Linked DNA regions of Homo sapiens: region 1 is linked to region 2. The links come from fine-mapping of genetic effects on gene expression. Tissue or cell type: whole blood. Region 2 holds a variant in brackets; the other region holds the start of a gene. All regions are shown on one strand. Distances are from middle to middle.

Region 1 (9,932 bases), 110 kb after region 2:
CGGGCTCCATCAAAACAAAAACAGAGGAGGCCGGCCGGGCGGCGGCGGGCGCGCGCGGGGGCGGCAGAGAGCGGGCGCGCCCCCGCTGCCCGGCGCCGCGACCGCGCCTCCACCGCCCCGGGCACCGCCGGCCGCGCGCCCCGGCAGGCCGGGGGCGGGAGGGCAGAGGGCACCACCCTGTTTACCGCCACGGCCCCGCCCCGCCAGCGCCCGCTCCCGGAAACGGTCTCCCGGGAGAGGGCCGGCGAGTGCGCACCCACCCGCGGCGGGGAACGCCGGCCCTGCGTGGGAGGCGCCCGGCTCCGGCGGCCCGCCGCCCCCGGCTGCTGCGTGTCACCCCCGTCACGACTCTGCTACGCACTTCGCCCCCAGCTTTCAGCTCCGGCGCTTCCGCAGACCCCTCACGTGGCTGCCGCCTCCCTGCCATGGCACTCCCCGGCGACCGGGGCTGCGGCCCCTAGCGCTGCGAGGGATCCCGAGCCTGTGCCCACCCCACCTTGGACGTCACCCTCCTCGGACCACCCAACCCACACCTTCCGCCTAGGGCGGGGCGAGGGGAGGACGGCTACGAGCTGTCAGGAGCCTCCAGCTTTCCCCGTGACGAAGCTCACCCTCGCCCTGATGTCGCCACTCACCCAGCAGCGGGCTGCGAGCTGGAGCAGACGTTAACACCGAGGGAGGACTGAAGGGAACGTCTTGATTTTTCTCCTTAATTTGCCACAGACACAGGGAAAAAAAAAAAAAAACAAAAACAGCAGACGCAGCTCTACCTTTGCGCTGGCTTTAAAGCTTTTAAGCTCCCCACGTCATCCTACCCCATGCAACAGACTTACCGAATAGCAATGCCCACCCCACACACCTGCTAGGTAACTCGCCTTCTGGAAATCGGGGGCCCCACCCACCCCGCCTTCTGGAAACCTGCGCCTGGGGTGGGGTTGAAGAGACACTGTCTGGTATCCTAAAGTCAGAGGGCGTGAGGAGACCGGCGCCCTTCGCCCCACCCAGGCGCGCTGCACCCTCCGGTCCCCGTCTCTAGAGTGCACCAAGGCATCCTGCGTCCCTGCCGGAGAAAAGAGGGACGGGGCCAGAGGCCCGAGTTCCAGGGAGTTGCTGATTCCAGTGGAGAACCGAGACACCGCGTCCTTTCTAATTAATAAGCACGCCACCCCCTACCTCCAACCCCCCCCCCCGCCCCGCCTTTATTTCTTGTTGACAGCAAAGGTGGGGGACGTGGGAGAAAGGCAAGAGTTGTCTCTAGGTTCGGGATGTTGGGCTGCGCGGAGGGAAGAGGTGGGATCTCGAAATGGAAACAGTCCCCCCTTCCTCCCCCCTCCCCTCCTCCTCCTCCTCCTCCTCTTCTTCTGTTTACCTCAAGTTTGAATTTTATCTGCGCAACATTAGCTGGAATGCGGACATTGAAAAAAAAAAAAAAACACTCTCTCAGCCCGGCAGCAGCTCCGGAGGAGCCATGTGGCATCAAGCCACAGCAAAGGGGAAAAAGTGCTCTTAGCAACACAAACATGGCGAAATCGCTCTCACAAGCCGGGTTCCCGCGACAGCCCTACCTTCCCCCGCTCGCCTTCCGAACGTCCTGGCCAGGAACCGCAGACCCCTTCCGGGGGACGGCGAGGGGGCCCCGGGCTGAGCGAGGGTGGGCGCACGGGGCGTGCTAAGGGGAAATTGACTAGCCAGCCGATCAGCTCCGCCGGCAGCGGAGGGGACGCCTTCTTCACGCCCTGAGATCGCAAAGGAGAGCAAAATTCCCATCCCAAAGTCCTGCGGGACCGGCTTCCCCACCCGACGAACTTACCCCAGGGCTGAACGCACGCTGCTTTAGCTCCTTGCCTCGTTCCTTCCTCCCGGGCGCGACGCGAGGTGAAAATGATGCGCACGTAGATTTGTAGAGCGTATTCTTGAGAATTTCCCTGGGATGAATCGGGAGGAGCGGTGGAGACTCCGGAGACAGGTGCCGCGCTGGTCTGGGCTGCCGGCTAAAAGTTGTCCTCCGCGCGGTGGGCGGTGGGGTCCCCGGCCAGGGCCAAGGACCCCGGCTCCCTGCCCCCCGGCGTCGCCCACTTGTCACGCCAGGCTGCTGCGTGCACTCGGCTGCAGGGGAGGTGGCGTAGTTTCTCTTCCTCCCACCTCTTCTCACTCACTTGTTTTTGTAGCCGTGGGCTCCCCTAATGCTTTCCTCTCCACAATGTTGTTTCATTATATCATGTCCATCATGTGACACCAGAGAGGCCTCTCTATGGAAACTTAAAGGGGCTCCCACGTGACTGCAGCAGCAACAACAGCAGCAGGACTGGCGGCGGCGGCCGCAGCGGCGTCCGTACCTCCACCCACCGGGAGCCCCTCGAAGCATCCCGGAGGGGCTTCTGGCGCTGCAGGAGCCCCGATCGGGGAGCCACAGCATCCGGGAGCCGTGGTGTCTGTGCGTGCGTGGAGCCTGTGCTCATGACATAGGAAGCCGAACAGAAGGAGCGTCCTCAAATCCTTTCCTACAGTCACCAAACCCACGCTCTGTTAAAATGACATTTCGTGGCTCCTACTTTGTTTCCCCGGAGAGCAATGAGTTTTCTATCAGGCCTGATTTAGTTTGACAAAAGTCAAAAAGAAAAACTGGATTTGTCCCTCTGCGAGTTCAGTCAGATCGCTGGGAAAACAGAAATGACAAAACAATAATAACAGAAATAGAACCAGGCATTTGATACATAATTACCATCACCACGGCTTTCAAGCTTTCTGGAATTACGTTCCTCCAGTAACTGTTGATGATGCTTGCAGGAGGCAAAATGCAATGCAGTTTTTCTCTTCCGCAGCTATATTAGGGCTTTGTTGCTGACAACAGTGAAAACTTGTTTGTGTCAGGAAGTGAGGTACGGAGATATGACCTGGAAGGTACAGACAAAACCAAAGTGGCAGTTTTTGCATTACTTTTCTGACCACATTCTTTCAAATGGTGACAAGAAGGCGGTCTGCTGTAAAATTCGTGGGGTGTTTGATGGGAAACAAAATAATCAGAAAAACATAATTATCCCTAGCCATACCATACTTGCTAGACGCTAGAAAGTATACATATATGTAATCTCTGTATACATAGAGAAAGCAAAAAGCATGTGCACTTTAATATTTTTGAACCACTAATTTTGTCATCATTTGTACCATTAACAAACACTTGGAAAGACTCACTCAAGTCCAGGGATGTGTGGAAACTCACAATGTTGAGTGCTGTGGGTATTACTGACTCACAGTCCCTTAAAGGGTTTGTACCATAAATCCCAAATTTCTGCCTTAAAGTTTTTACAGACATGGAGATTTTATCCTGTAAATCTAAGCCAGATAGCTATTTCTGGGTTTTTTAGTTCATGCTTTTCCATTTTATAAAGGAAACTGTGTGGATTGGCGGAATCAAGAAAAACTTCGCAAGAAACTGAAGAGTGGGATGGAAGATCTTTTCGTTTGGCCTTGCCTTGACTCTGTCTCTCTCCACCTCATCAGTTTACTTCATCAGCCATGATGAATGAGCTCCATTCCAACCCTTCTAATTCTATAATATCTCTCCCAAGTTTTACCTTCCTATCTCATGCCTAATTCTTTTCATCCCTTTCCTCCTACCTCCCTTGCCTCCCAACTCAGCCCCTTTTCTGCCTGGGGGCTCAGCTCGGGCCTCCCCAAAGACTGTACCCCCCACCCTCCCCTGCAGCTACCCCCACCCCCACGCCCTTCCCAGCTCGGCCTCTCTTCTTTGCAACTCTACCTCCTTACCTCTTTTGACCTCTAATCACCTTCACAGTCTGGCCCTTGACTTCTGGGCCTCTTCTTACCTCTCTTTACCTGAAATGTCCTGGCCCTCACTGGGGTCTCCTCCACACCCTTCTCTCTGGTCCCATCCCTTCTGCTGCCAAGCCCCAGCGTTCCTCCGGCTCGGCCTGGTCAGCTTGAGCCTCATTTTGTTCGCGTGCCCCTGGGCTGGGAAAGGAGTGTGTGGTGCACAGTGGGGCCAAGGATCCCCTGGGGCCGCGGCCTCTGCCTCGCCCCCTCCACCCCTCCCGAGTCCCGGTTGCGGCGCTTCCTGGGCGGATGGCTTGAAATTGCTGCAGCAGCTGCGGTTCTGCTGTGTCATGCAAGAAGGAGGCGGCGGCGGCGGCGGCGGCGGCCGGAGCTGGAGGGGGAGGAGGGGAGGAACCTGATCCTCCGGTAGCGAAGGGCTAGAGGCAAACACCGAGCTCCTCCAGAGCCGCCCGGGAGCAGGGAGGGCTCCGCTAGCCCGGGGGGCCCTCCCCGCGGGGCAGATGGTAAGTGGGGCGGTGCAGGTGGTCGCCTTGGGAAGGGAGCGCGCAGGGGGGTAAGGTGGGGCGGCGGGAAGTGCTAGAAGTCACCCCAGCCAAACTGAAGGAGCCCAGTTTCCAGCTGAGAGGGACCCAGGCCGTAATAAGGATGTCCAGCCAAACGCAGCAATAATTACTATTGGAGTGACGCCCCGAAGTTGACCCCAAGCTACACAGAGGGTGGAGTGGTGCATCCTGAACCCAGGACAGAGCTGGAGGCAATGATTCAGGGTTTGAGAAGTATCAGCCCATCGGCCTGGCGCTTTAAGGTGCAGCTGAGTAGGAAAAGCCAACCCACATCATATTCCCAGAGCCTTGCTGCGCTTTCTGGGTTGTCTTGTTCAAAACTAGTGAAAGGGATGGGAAACCTGCCCAACCTCACTTTAGCCACGAAAATAATGCTCTTGGCCAGTGGCCTTGGACAAACAGCCTCTGGTGCAACAAAACAATCAATAGGAAGAAGAACTTCATTCCCCTCACCATCCTCCTTCCCCAAGTTCCTTTGACCAGCATACCTCATTCGGCTTAAAGGAGAAAGAAAACTATGTGTGACATTCCCTCCCAGCCTACCTGCAGCCAGCCTCCTCACCACACAAACTGCCCATCCCGCTTCTCTCCTCATCTTCAGAGCCATGATTCCAAGAGACATTGCAATACTACTCACTTTAGGTGAGAAGACTGCCTGAAACTCTGAACAATTTCACCTCCCTTGCCCTTTGCCACAGGGGATTCAGAAACCTACAACTGAGAGCAGGGAAATATACGGACAGGCTTGGCACGTAGGAACATTACTTCCTTCACTGGAGTGTAGTTCTCCAGACAACTTTTTAATTATGATTATTCCCTTCCATTGCACTCCTGGAAATTTCAAAGCACTTTCTAAAACATCATTTTTTTTATGTCAGTCATACATTTAGAGGTAAGGGGTTGATGGGATTAACTGAAAGGCTAATGACTGTCTCAAAAGCACATGCTGTTGCTAGGGAACCCAAGCTCCTGCTGCTCTCTAATCACCAGCGTGTTCCGTGGAAATCAAACTGCTCAGGGTGTTATTAAAATGAATGGCATCGGGTTAAAGGCATTCTTGCTTATGTTGTAGCATCCTGGATTATTATCGATTGCCTCACACCCACATATCTTGTTTTCCTAATTTGATTTCTGTATTTGCGTCACTGCCAGGGACACTCAGACTAGACCAGTCAGTTCACTTCCTGTTTCTCAGAACTGGTTTATATTTGGTCTCGTAGCACTAGCTGGTAAAACATTATCAAACTGATCCTCTTGGAAAGAAATCTTTGCTTCCCATTGAAAACAAAATATTCCAATTAAATTGTAATTCCTGTGGAAAACGTCATCATTTGAGGAGTAGACTGCCAGTTGCCATTTGAGAAACAATCCTTGAAATGTAAAGCCTAGAAAAAAAAAACATCATCTTGATTTCTTTTACCCAGAATCTTCATTCCTCAGCACTAGAACTAAGACAAACTCGAGTAAAGAGTAGATTTAAGTATACTTCTAAAATGAAACGCATAAATAAATAAATAAATAAATAAATAAATACATGTCGAAGCTGGGGAAATCATTTAGACTAAACAAGGCATAAAATTGAATGGAATCCAGGCCCAGGAAGGACAAGTAATTTTGGGTTAGCATTGTGGCATTCGGAGAACACAGTGTGACTACAAGGCTACACTACAAATAGGAAACCCCATCACTTTGTGTACTAATTGTCTTTTTTACCAATTCCTCTATGTCCCTGGACAAGACAACCTTGTTTTGTTTTGTTTGTTTTCAGTTCCTTCCTCTTTATAACAAGGATATTGCAAAGGCAATATCAGAAAGATAAGCCCTATGTAAATAGGTGGATTCTGATGTAGATAATTTGTTTAGATGGAAAATGAAGCCCTTTGAAAAAGATGTATAATGGCATCGATAGCCTGGATGACCTTGAGTGAGCCATTGTAGGTCTTATGTCAGTTTCTTCGTGGAAGCTTAAATGAAAGTGCTGGACTAAAGGATTTCTAAGGTTCCTCCCATTTACAAACTTCTGTGATGAGATTGAACTCACTACATAAAAATTTCAATTTTAGCTGGATTTTGCAATGTTAAATTTAAGCACTGAACCTTTAATATCTATCCATAGGAACCTTGAGGGAAATGATGGGAAATGACTTTCTATTGATGTATCCATTTTTAGTGTCTGTTGACAGAAAAATAAAATTTACCTTGCTCCCCATGTACTTAGTCTCTCCCTGCCTCAGTGGTATTATGGAAGCAACAGGATAAGAGTTACAAAAGGATATAAAAGTATAGAGAAAGTTCTTTCAGTCTACTCACTTATTTATTATGACAACGTGTCACTGTGTTACCCAGGCTGGCCTCCAACTCCTGGGCTCAAGCAAGCCTCCCACCTCAGCTTCCTGAGTAGCTGGGGCTACAGGTGCACTCAACCATGCCTAGCCTTTCAGTCATTTTAGATATAGGTAATCCTAAGTACTCTGATGATCAAAGTGGTGGAATGATGGAGGAAGGGGTGTACAAAAAAATAATCAACTGAATCCTCATGGAACTAATAATAATCTATTTGCCTGTGTTTTAATTAGTGCTAGGCAAAAATAGACCTAGCTCAGCTCTTGGAATTTTTCAAATTCACAGTATTGAGAAGTAGCATGAAGAAATGTGAGATTTGTGCCAGAGAGAAAAGACCTGACTTTGAAACCCAACTCTGCCACTTTATTCATTATTGAGTGCTTGCTGTGTGTCAGGTACTGTGCTGGGTGCTGGGAATACAAAGATGAATAAGACACAGTTTCTGCTCTGAAGGACATTATAGTATCATGAGAACAAAGATGAATATACAGTTGATCACGCAACAGTGAGATGATATCAACAGGGGAGCTCATAAGAATGGTGCCTAACCCTGACCACGCATAGGGTCTCTAACCACACAAGGTGAATCTTGAGATGCGTTCTGAAGGATAAGTAGAAGTAAGCCAGACAAGTGGGCAGGTTACAGGGAAAGATATTCCAAGCAAAGAAAGTACTATGTGTAAAGACCTTAGGGAAAAAGCTGTGTGCAGGGAGTTGAGGGTGAAGAACAGAGCCTGGCAAGTAGGTTCTAAATAAATACATTGTATAAATGCATGGCAGAAGTCCTGGAGGAGAAATCCAGAAAGATTAGCATGGTTGAGTATGTTATCCTAAAAAGTTTGAACTTATTCTAAGGCCAGTGGAGAACCACTGATGAATTTTAAGGGGCATAGTGAACTGATCAAATGTTCATTTTAGAAAGATCTCTCAGCTGGGTGCAGTGGCACACTACTGTAATCCCAGCAGTTTGGGAGGTTGAGGTGGGCAGATTGCTTGAGCTCAAGAGTTTGAGACCAGCCTGGGCAACATGGTGAAACCCCTGTCTCTACAAAAATACAAAAAAAAAAAAAAAAAAAATTAGCCAGGCCTGGTGGCACACACCTGTAGTCCCAGCTCCTCAGGAGGATCACTTGAACCACAGAAGCGGAGGTTGCAATGAGCAGAGATCATGCCACTGTGCTCCGGCCTGGGGAAACCTACAATCATGGTGGAAGGCGAAGGGGAAGCAGCCACCTTCACAAGGCAGCAGGAGAGAGAGAGCTTGCGGGGGAAACTGACACTTTTAAAACCGTCAGATCTCATGAGAACTCCCTCACTATCGTGAGAACAGCATGGAGGGAACTGCCCCCATGATCCAGTCACCTCCCACCAGGTCCCTCCCTCAGCACGTGGGGCTAACAGTTTGAGATGGGACACAGAGCCAAACCATATCACATTATAAGAAAGAAATAATGATGCATGTCTAAACTAAGGTAGCAAGAATGGACATGGAGAGAGGAAGCATTGAAAGGGTTTAAGATATATTAAGGACATAGAACCAACAGAATTTGATTATTGATGGTATCCTCCATCAATGCTATCCTTCCATTTTCATAAGCCATAAATCTGCTCCCATTATATCCTGCAGATATATCCTGAGGTCCAAGATAGGGACCTCAGGAGGAAAAGCAGGTTGTGGAGTGAAGGTAATTAGTTTAGTTTTCAACATGTTGAGTTGAAGTGTCCATAGAATATCAAAGTGAAGCTGTCTACTACATAATTGAACAGGGAAGTCTAGAACTCAGGAGAGAGATCTATGCTGGAGTCATCAGAATAAGGAATAGTTCATGGAAGTAGATGAAATCCCCAAGAGAAGGCATAGAGAAAGGAAAGAAGAGGATCTACTTTGGAACCCTATGAAAACCCTGATATTTAAAAAGTGAGGAAAGAAAAAATACAGGGGAAAAATATCCCAAGAGGTAGGAGGACCAGGAACAAGTAGTTTCAAAGGAGCCAGGGGAGGAAACATCAGCAGTATTAAATGCCAGCTAGAAGTCAAGAAAAAGAGGATTGTGGCCAGCTGCAGTGGCTCACACCTGTAATCCCAGCACTTTGGAAGGCCGAGGTGAGCGAATCACCTGAGGTTAGGAGTTCGAGACCAGCCTGGCCAATATGGCAAAACCCCATCTCTACTAAAATTAGCCGGGTGTAGTGGCACACACCTGTAGTCCCAGCTACTCAGGAGCTGAGACACAAGAATCTCTTGAACCCAGGAGGCAGAGGTTGTGATGAGCTGAAATTGCACAACTGCACTCCAGCCTGGGCAACAGAGCAAGACTCTGTCTCAAGAAAAAAAAAAAAAGCAAAGCAAAGAAAAAGAGGACTGAAGTTTTTGGATTTAGTAAGGAGGTCATTGTTGTGTTCGGCAAGAAGGAGTTTATTAGTAAAATGGGGATAGTAGCCAAACTGCAGTGAGTTCAAGACAGGATAAGAGTAGAGGATGCAGATAGATGAAGTTCTTTTATATAAGAAGGACTAAAGGGCAAGTAGGGAAGGAAAATAAAAGAGAGTGGTGTAATCCATGGTCTGCAAGCTTAAGGCTGCACAAGGAAAGAAGGAAATACTACACTAATAGAATTCTTCATTCTCTCAGGCTTCAAATTAAATGGCATTACCACCCACCAATTGCTCAACACAAAAAGCATGTAGATATTCTTGATTCTTCTCTTTTCCTCCGTTTTCACAATCCTCAGAATTCAGGTCAACTTTACCTCCAAAACATTTCCAAAATGTCTCTTTCGGTCTCCACTGCTACCACCCTAATACAAACCATCATCCCTCTTCTGTGCTCTTGTAATAGCTTTCTAAATGGTTTTCCTGCTTCTGCTCTTGTCCTCATTCACCACAGCACAGCTAGAGTTTCATAAATCATAAGTCTTAAGACATAAATCAGATCATGTGATTTCTCATCTTAGAATCCCTCCATGTCTGCTGATGGCACCTGTGATAAAGTCCAGACTCCTCCTCCATGCAGGGCCCGTGGAGCCCTGTACGGCATCCCCGACCACCTCTTCAACCTCATCTCCCACCACTCTCCACCACCGCAGTGACACCAGCCTTATTTCTCTTCCTCAAACTTGTTGAATTTGCTCTTGTATTATAGGATTTACCCTATATACTTCCTTTTCCTGGAATACTCTTTTGGTCATTCTGATCTTTGCTTATATGTCACCTCCTCAAAGAAGCCCTCCC
Region 2 (9,932 bases):
ACACCTATCAACCCATCACCTAGATATTGAGCCCCACAAGCATTAGATCTTTTTCCTGATGCTCTCTCCCCCACCCCCAGAGTATGTTATTCCCCTCCCCTGTGTCCATGTGTTCTCACTGCAGAACCACTAATTTTTAACAGTAGTCACTGAATATCTCCTCCCACACTAAGCTACACTTCCCAGAGGCCTCTGCAGTTCTGAACTCTTTACAGTTTAAAAACAGTTTCCTTGCTTAAAAATATGGAAGTAAAACAGCAGTTGAGCAGAATCACGGATTTTTCAGACACAAAGATACTCTGAAATGCAACTACTCTATGCTGATTTTTTTCAGATAAGGGAAATATATTTAAGAAACAAGAAATATACGCAAGATGAAACAGGTTGTTGGCAAAGTGAGAACTCAGTAGCCAGGTTTCCATGGTTTACTAAATAAAGAGATCTAAGTTCAAATTCAGATTCTTCCACTCCCTAGCTGTAGGCTCCTGATCCAATCTTATGAGCCCCAATTTCCTTATAAACAGGAATAATACAGTATGTGTGAATATATTATTCCTGTTTATACCCATAAGGATTGTTAAGTAAATTGAATTGAAGACACTTAACTGTCTTCTACAATAGTGCCTGACTCCAAGTAGTAAGCACACAATAAATGTTGGTTGTAGTTATAAACAGATTTTTGTTGTGGTTTTAGAAAAAAAGAGGAACATTCCCCATGTATGAGGTATGTCTAACCTGAGACCTTTGTGTTTTGAAGGCAGAGACTGAAGGAATTAGGTGCTGGAGCCCAGAGCTGCAAGTGTGAAGGTTGTGGGCCTGTGGGAACACAGCTGGAAGTGACTCAATCCCTGGGGTTGGTTTCCCCAAAACTGGGAGGGGAAGGGATTAGGGTCCCATGAAGAGAAAAGCCCTGACCCACTCACACACCTGCAGGAGGCAGGATTCCAGATGAAAGTGTTGTCAGAGTGGAGACCTCAGTGAACACAGGCTTGGGGGCACTCTGCAGAAACCCCCTGCAAAGCACTAACAGAGGTTCCCTTCTGAGAGGACGCCAGGGGACTGGGCCAGGGACATGAACAGAGCAACCACAAATGGAGCGGGGTCAGGAGTCCCTCTTCCCCTCTGGTGGAGGGAGGGATCCCAACAACGAGAGTGGGTTTCCCACACACTCTGAAAAGCGGGAACCCTCATCAGATTCTATTTGATTCAGAAAAATGATTTAAATCAGGTTTAGCCTAAGGTCACGCAGCTAGTAACAGCAGAGCAAGGATTCAAAGCCAAGTCTGTCTGACTCCAAAGCCCTCACTCCTGTTGCCCATGCTGCCTCTGTGTGAGCAAACTTGTTCAAGCATGAGTTCCACCAACTATAGATCACCAGTAGTGTCTTCTCAGTATGCAGTTTTTCAATTAAAAATATTTTCTAACTAAAAAGTTTTTGGTTTTTGGAAGGACTATTTGGATGGGCTCTAAACCAAGGGGTTGTATTTACAATGGCTTCCCTCTATTAAAGTTAGGAGAAAAGACTCTACAGTGAAGATTCTGTATTTTTTAAAATGCAGTGGTAAATAAAATTTATAGTAGTCCAGTGGTTTGGACTGAGCTCCTGCACTAGGCCCCAGAGACCAAACCAAAATGGAGTCGCTCAGGCTGAAATCCCAAGCCACCAAGTCAAAACTAAGTTGTTCCAAGAAATCAGGAGAGAGAGAGAGATAAGAGCCAAATCTCCAAAAAGGCCAGTTTTAGCTGGCATGATAAGGAAGTCCCCTCTGCTTTAACCTTTGTAAGGAAAACAACTTCGAAATGATGAATAACTTTTTGTTCACTGTTTTCTTCAGCCCTTTTCTGCCTATAAAACCAACCTCCTCTGCTCGGCTCATCGTAACACCCACTGTATTTTATAGAATGAGGTGTTGCTGTACTTTAGAACAGCAAATAAAAGCCAATTAGATCTTTAAGCTAATTTTATGGCATTTTGTTTTTTGACAGCGGGTCAGTCTTCAATACCTCCAGAGATATGTTTAAACCAGATACAAGAAACAAATTTCTAAAGAAATGAATCCACCTGAGTGAAAGAAGGACGGTCATACTTCTAGGTGTCCTCGTTCAGATGAAGTACTGGCAGTAAGTCAGGCAACCAGCCAGTTACGCTGGTGAACAATGCTGGCCCTCCACATACCTCGGTTTTTAGTGGACAATCTGATAGAAGCAAGAGTCCTGTTATATCCAGATAGGGGGGGCCTTGACAAAGAATCGCTGAGGGACTAATTTATTTGATGTAAGCCAAATAACTTTTTCATTTTCAAATTACAGCTATTAACAAATGTCAGATTTATACAAATGAACTTAATGCCACATCCCCCCAAAAATGGTTTTAAATTAAGATATATTTTCTAGTTTTGAGATGAATGACTTGAGCATGTGTGAAAAGATCCTAAAAGGATTCCTTCTTGTACTGCTAGAGGTGAATGCCAAAAGTGAAAGGCCACAACATCCCAATGGGTGACGGGATTCTTGTGGGCTTCTTGCCTAGGACAAAGACTTCAGCAGGGTTACCTATACTAAAGACTTGCTGGTAAGCGAACAGCACTCCCACTGTGTAGGAGCTTCTGGGAAATGCAGAGCCTCAGGGCTCCATCCCAGAGCCACTAAATCAGAATCTTTTAACAAGATGCCCCAGGGTTCTCCATGCAGGGTAAAGTTTGAGAAGCACTGCACTTCAGTACCTTAAGTAAATGCAGATGCACTGTGTTTAAGTGTGATCAGTCTTCTGTTCTGTGATTTCAATCATCTATCAGAGCTTTCTTATAAACTAAATGTTCCTTAAATATTTCCAAGGAAGAGACCGGCTATTACTCTCCCTGGAAAAATGAGCTGATGTTCATCAATCTATAAAACACTGACTCCACATAAGCTGTGTCACAGGCAATAATTTCCTTGATATATACTAGTACCATCAATGCTTTATTTTTATTTTTTTGTTTCTGATTGTCCCCAAATGACAGAAACTCTTAGAATTTAAAAAAAAAATCCTAAACTTAAAAAAAAAAAATTAAAAATTCTATTTCACCTTTTACCACCGTTTCTCCTTTTATATCAAGTAATCAATGGTGGGTTAATGACTTCTTAAATATATTAATAAGGAGTTGTAGATGAATAAAATCTATAAAACAGAAACATACTTTGATAACAAAATCGTATCTTCCAATCACCTCAAGCTTCTTGCAATTTTTCTATGTCTAAATCAGATTTCTAAACCAGACCCTCCTTAGAACAAGAGACAAACTTTATTTTCTCTAGTCTCAGATTCCCAGGGTGGCTGTAAGTAAAGGGGAAGAATACTTAGAGTTTACTACTTAGATAAAACTTACAGATATTTTCAAAAAATAGAATACCTTCTCCAACCACAAAAGTTTAAAAAGTCTCAATTACAGGAAAATTCTGTACTTTCAAATTCCAAACAAATTTTAAGTTATGTTTAGGTGTGTATGAACTGGGGACACCAAAGGAGGACAACTGGATTATCTAAATAAATAAATATTACCACAAACAATAAAGGGAGTACTTGAGTGCACATTTACTTTAAAAAGTAGCTTTATCGGCCACGTGCAGTGGCTCACACCTGTAATGCCAGCACTTTGGGAGGCCGTGGTGGGCAGATCCCCTGAGGTCAGGAGTTTGAGACCAGCCTGGCCAACATAATGTAACCCCATCTCTACTAAAAACACAAAAATTAGCCAGGTGTGGTGGTGCGCACCTGTAGTCCCAGCTACTCAGGAGGCTGAGGCA[G/A]AAGAATCACTTGAACCCAGGAGGCAGAGGTTGCAGTGAGCCGAGATCGCACCATTGTACTCCAGCCTGGGTGACAGGGTAAGACTCTGTCTCTAAAAAAAAAAAAAAAAAAAAAAAGTAGCTTTATCAAAGTGAAGACTTGTGAACTATACTACATTGAAAACAAGTATCCCATTCAATAAAAATATTAATGAGTCACTCCTATATGGTAATGTGGCATATTATCTTGGTGTCCCCAAGGAATCATGCCTACTGGTGATCACACCCATGGTCGTGCCCTCCCACACCAACTCTGGACTGGACCAGTGGGACATTAGAAAGCATGATGCAAGCAGAAGCTTCATGAATGCTTGCATACTAGGTGAGACACGTCCAATAAAAGTATCTCTCAGAATATCTAGTGATATTCAGCTGCCCTATTAAAAAGACTAAGCAAGCCATGTAGATAGAGAGGTCAAAACCTCTCCACTATCCCCATTAAGGTGTTGGACATGTGAACTGTCTTGGATATTTCAGCCCCAGTCACTATCTTACTGTAACCACTCTAGATAATCAGAGAGACCAGCAGAAGAACCATCCACCTGAGCCCTAGCCAACTCACAGACTAATGAGCAAATAAAATGATAGTTGTATGAATGTGGTAAGTTTTAGGGTGGTGTGTTATATAGTAATAGACAATCCAAACAACTAGGAAACGGTATCTGCCTTAGAATGCAAGAGACTTCAAATAAGTCTAGGTTTATTTAGATTTTTAAATTCTTTTGTAGATTTTTTTTTCTACTTTCTGTTTATGACCTACAAAAGATAAGCTCATACTTAAGAGAACATTAAATGGTCTAAGGAGGGAGTCATTATAATCTACTTGAAATAATGCTGCATTTTACATTAGTACAGCATTTTCTATCTATTATGGCTTATCAAATGCACACTAACTTCTAAGGCAGAGATTCTTAATTTGGGGGGAGCAGGGGAGAATTCCCTCTGAGAATCCAAAAAAAAAAAAAAAAGATAATGGTCCCAGAAACACATAACTACATATTTTTTTAAATTTATTTTTATTTTTTGTTTTTTTTAAGAGATAGGGTCTGGCTATGTTGTCCAGGCTCATCTTGAACTCTTGGGCTCAAGCAATACTCCCACTTCAGCCTCCCAAGTAGCTGGGACTATAGATGTGCACCACCATTCTTAGCTTTATACATGTAGTTTTAAGGAAGACCATCTATGAACGCCAGGTTAAGAATCTATGTTTTCTAGGGAAACAGGTCTTACTAGCCTAGTAACACTGATAAGTAAACAGAATTCTCTGGAAAATGACCTACCTAAGCTTATACAGCTAGTAATTGATAGGACCAGCAATCTAGTCTGTCAGAGGATATACCACTAAACTCTTCTTTCTAACTTTAGTTTACAGTCAAAATGGGATTGCTGAACCTGGGAAAAAAATAAATGCTTCCCAATTTCCTATTTAAACAGTGTAAGAATTGGGGGTGGCATTTGAAGGTGGGAGAAGAAGGGCAAACTTGTTAGTTTACTAGTGTGAGCGGTAGATTTTTATGCCAACTGGAATCACTGAGATTAACCTTATGGACGGACTGTAGACTGGAGATTAAAGTCCACACTTGAATTTGGACGATACAATGCGCAACAAGCACAAAACATTCCATTATTTTTTCAATGGTTTACTCATACTTGATCCTCTTATTCCCTATCTACTTCAAATTACTTAGAAAAATCTGTATATACACAATATGAGAGAGCTTCTTTATATTATTTTTAATTTTTTGTTGCTGTTGTTGAGACAGAGTCCCGCTCTGTTGCCCAGGCTGGAGTACAAAACATTGCACATATTTTTTTCAATGGTTTACTCATACTTGATGAGAGAGCTTCTATTATATTTAATTTTTTGTTGTTGTTGCTGAGACAGAGTCTCGCTCTGTTGCCCAGGCTGGAGTGCAGTGGTGTGATCTTGGCTTACTGCAACCTCCGCCTCTCAGGTTCATGCAATTCTCCTGCCTCAGCCTCCCGAGTAGCTGGGATTACAGGCGCATACCACCATGCCCAGCTAATTTTTGTATTTTTAGTAGAGATGATGTTTCACCACATTGGTCAGGATGGTCTTGAACTCCTAACCTCAAATGATCCACCCACCTCAGCCTCCCAAAGTACTAGAATTACACACATGAACTACCACACCTGGCCTATATTTGAATATTTAACAATTAAGCTGAAAAGCTTCTTGATGACATATCTTTAGAGATGATTACCAAGTTACATCTTCCCCTTTTCCATATCTGTGGGAAATATACCCAACACAGTGCTACAGACTACCAAAGCTGGAGTCCTGGTGCACTTCCTCATTTCTGACCTGACAGCTACCACACTCGGACCAAAGACAGTAGGCCATCTGAGAACCCACACAGGCACTTGGCAAGTCTATAAAATGACTTGCAGACCAGTGGGGATATCCATCTCCAATCTCAGCCTTTGACTGGAAAATTCCAATGTACAACAAGTTTTTGAAAAGATAAAAAATATATATTTTTACTATTTCTCTGTCTCTCTTGCCTCCATCTCCACTCATTCAAGCTTTACCCACTTTTCTGCTTTCTGCACAACTGCCACCTTTTGCATTAAAACTTCCCATAAACCATACCTTGCCTAGCGCAATCTCTGGGAGAAAGAAGTGAACTCCCACAGCACTCCATCTTTGCTGCTCCAACAGTGCCATCATTTTCCACCCTACACGGTTTTTTTGGCTTTGTTTTGAAGACAGGGTCTCGCTCTGTTGCCCAGGCCATAGTGCAGGGGAGTGATCTCGGCTCACTGCAGCTTTTAACTCCCGAGCTCAAGCAATCCTCCCACCTCAACTTCCCGAGTAGCTGGGACCACCAGCATGTGCCACCATGACCGGCTATTTTTTTAAAAAAATTTTTGTAGAGATGGGGTCTCACTATATTGCCCAGGCTGGTCTTGAACTCCTGGGCTCAAGCAATCCTCCCACCTCAGCCTTCCTAAGCGCTGGGATTACAGGTGTGAGTCACCACACCTCACCTCTACCTTACACAGTTTTATTTCTTCTTTAAGCAACATGAGCATAGGATTTGTGTGGTTTCATCTTTCTTCTAGTGCCTAGCATCCTGCACATACACTATGTGTGTCTGTGTGTCTGTGCATATAGCCTGGAAAAGCATGTAGACACACACCCAAATTTACCAAGCACTACTATGCCCAGGCACTATCTCTTACCTACACTGTTGCAAAAATCATCCATCTTCACAAAGTCTCCTTCAAGTAGTCATTATCATCATTCCCATTTTGCAGAATAGCAAACTGAAATTTAGAGAGGTTAATACTTGGCCAAAATCACAGAGATAGTAAATGGCAGAGCTGAGACTGAAATCCAAGCCTGACCAATTAAGAGCCAAGGCACTTAATAATAAATTTAATACCCATTCGATATGTCATTTAGTGAACAGCATTTCTACACAAGGTACTAGAATGAGAACGTTAGGAATGAAGATAGCCCAAGGTCAACAACTATAATATAACTATACGACAAAGGAGAAAGAGCAAAGTCCAAGAAAAGAGTGCATAACTATTCACAATAGCAAAGACTTGGAACCAACCCAAATGTCCAACAATGATAGACTGGATTAAGAAAATGTGGCACATATACACCATGGAATACTATGCAGCCATAAAAAATGATGAGTTCATGTCCTTTGTAGGGACATGGATGAAATTGGAAATCATCATTCTCAGTAAACTATCGCAAGAACAAAAAACCAAACACCGCATATTTTCACTCATGGGTGGGAATTGAACAATGAGAACATATGGACACAGGAAGGGGAACATCACACTCTGGGGACTGTTGTGGGGTGGGGGGAGGGGAGGGATAGCATTGGGAGATATACCTAATGCTAGATGATGAGTTAGTGGGTGCAGCGCACCAGCATGGCACATGTACATATGTAACTAACCTGCACATTGTGCACATGTACCCTAAACCTTAAAGTATAATAATAAAAAAAAAAAAAAAAGAAAAGACTGCATAAATGCTAAGGATGCTCACAGGAGTATGAGATCACTTTTTGGGGGAATGGAGGTAGAGAGGGGTAGGAGTAAAGATAATCATGAAGAAGATGGCACTGAGTTGCAGCTTGGATTTGAACAAGCAGAAATGAGAGGTAACAATATGTTAAAGATTAAACTGGGCTCACCTTAGTATTCTTCCTAAAGCAGCAAAGTGGGCTAATATATTACGTTCAGTTATATTATCCTTGATAGCAAAGACAATTTCATATACTTGTTTTTATGCAACATTCACATTCTGGAAACATCCAGTAAATATTTACTGATCGAGAAAGGAGGAGAAAAGGGGGCAAGGTGGGTGAATAAGAAATATTAAATATTTCTTTGAATACTTAATTAGTTCAAACACACAGTTTGTTCCACATGCAGTCTGGTTTTACAATATATGTGAATTAAATCCTTCTAGTCACTAACAATCTTTCACTAAGTTGTATGTATTCTCTGCCCATAATACTGGAAGAATCTAGGTGAAAAAAAAATTGCCCAGTTTTTTCTCTGCCCAATTTTAAATCTTCATGTGTCCAGCGATGTCTGCATTCAAAGTGATTAGGCCAAATCACTGTCTTACCAGTTTTACTCCCAAAACTAAGTACAAATCCATTTTAATCTATTTATCTGTACATCAAAAGATTTTTCTCTAGAAAATACTTTTTTTTTTTTTTTTTGAGACAAGTCTTGCTGTGTCACCCAGGCTGGAGTGCAGTGGCATGATCTCGGCTCACTGTAACCTCTCCCTCCTGGGTTCATGCAATTGTCCTGCCTCAGCCTTCCGAGTAGCTGGGATTACAAGCATGCACCACCACGCCCAGCTAATTTCTGTATTTTTAGTAGAGACGGGGTTTCACCATGTTGGTCAGGCTGGTCTCGAACTCCTGGCCTCAAGTGATCCACCCACCTTGGTCTCTCAAAGTGCTGGGATTACAGGTGTGAGCCACTGCATCTGGCCTACATTTGTATTTTAAAAAGGTAAAATTAACAAAAGGTGCCCATCTACGTAAAAAAGTCAAAAGGAACCATCTACCTGCAAGGCAGCATGAATAAAAATGTAAAGGCAAACTTAACTGTTACAATAACATATCAGCTCTGAGTCTAAAGGAAAACGGGTGTTTGTCTAAGAAATGTGCTAGAGAGAACCAGCCAGTTTTAATGTGCCTTAAGCAATGAAAACCTGTTTCCTCCTTTCCTTCTTGTCCTTTTGAAAAGACAACATGTCACAGGGAGACGTTTTTCTAACAGCATCCATCCTGGTGACAAATGTTTGCCAAGGGTGGGGAGAGAGGAGGGAGGAAAGAAAGAAAAAGAGAAGGAAGACGCCATCTGCTGACGAAAGAGAAAAGAAGAGGAGGAGGAATTGGAAGGCGCCACTTCCGGGTCCGTGTCTGAGAAATACAACGTATCACCATAAGGCAGACTTCTACTCAATATAAGGAAGAACTTTATAATAATTGGAGGAATTCAAAGGCAGAATTGATCAGGGACCAAAGTTCAAGCAGGGGGTGGCGAGGTCTCCTCAGGCAGAATAATCTTTCGTAAGCTTCTCCCTCTTGAAGGAAGAACGGCCCCAGTTCAAGTAGAAGAAAATACTGTGCTTATTATTTTTCTCTAATTCTTAAATGTTTCAAATAGTCTCTATCTTGATAATTCACGATTCAAAGGACTGAGACTGAAACATCAAATAAGCAAGCACACAAATTTGCCTGACACCACCTGCCCCCACCCCTAGTCCCTGGGCCTTATTTCTGGGCTTGCTGCTGGGCTCTCCACGGGCAGCTGGCTGCCATCGCTCCGCTGGAGGGCGGTACCATGAGCACGGATGGGGCCCACATGGCAGGCAAAGCACTGGAAATTGATGCCGCACCCCGCTGCTGCCTCTCAGTCAGCAACTGGCCAAAGCTGATGTGTAAGTGACCCATGTGGGCTAACACTGAGGCCTGGTCCTTACACTGGCTCCCAGAGTGTCCAGCAAAGTTAGGCTCCAATTGTTTCCCTATCTCGCTTCCCTTAAAATGTTTCTTTCACCTTCCAAACAGATAACATACATCTCTGTCTCA

The links. PIP is the estimated chance that this variant, and not a neighbour inherited with it, causes the effect.
Region 1: LINC-PINT starts here. The variant in region 2 is fine-mapped to the expression of LINC-PINT in whole blood (TOPMed, PIP above 0.99). The same link has a PIP of 0.9 or more in lung.

The regions. Positions count from the first base shown.
Region 1 is chr7:131,105,910-131,115,841 of GRCh38, forward strand. LINC-PINT (long intergenic non-protein coding RNA, p53 induced transcript) reads right to left here and starts at 4,016. Exons shown (of 8, transcript NR_170176.1): 1 at 3,828-4,016; 2 at 1,811-2,894. It also overlaps a transcript of MKLN1 not described here. RefSeq lists silencers at 1,905-1,954, 1,975-2,034, 4,092-4,141, 4,222-4,371, 5,522-5,581 and 1 more and enhancers at 2,017-2,868, 5,263-5,804.
Region 2 is chr7:130,998,443-131,008,374 of GRCh38, forward strand. All of the region lies in intron 3 of LINC-PINT (long intergenic non-protein coding RNA, p53 induced transcript), which reads right to left. Among named protein-coding and RNA genes, the nearest start is that of LINC00513, 90 kb to the left of the region's middle. RefSeq lists an enhancer at 9,182-9,281. The variant G/A (reference allele first, on the strand shown) is at 3,787.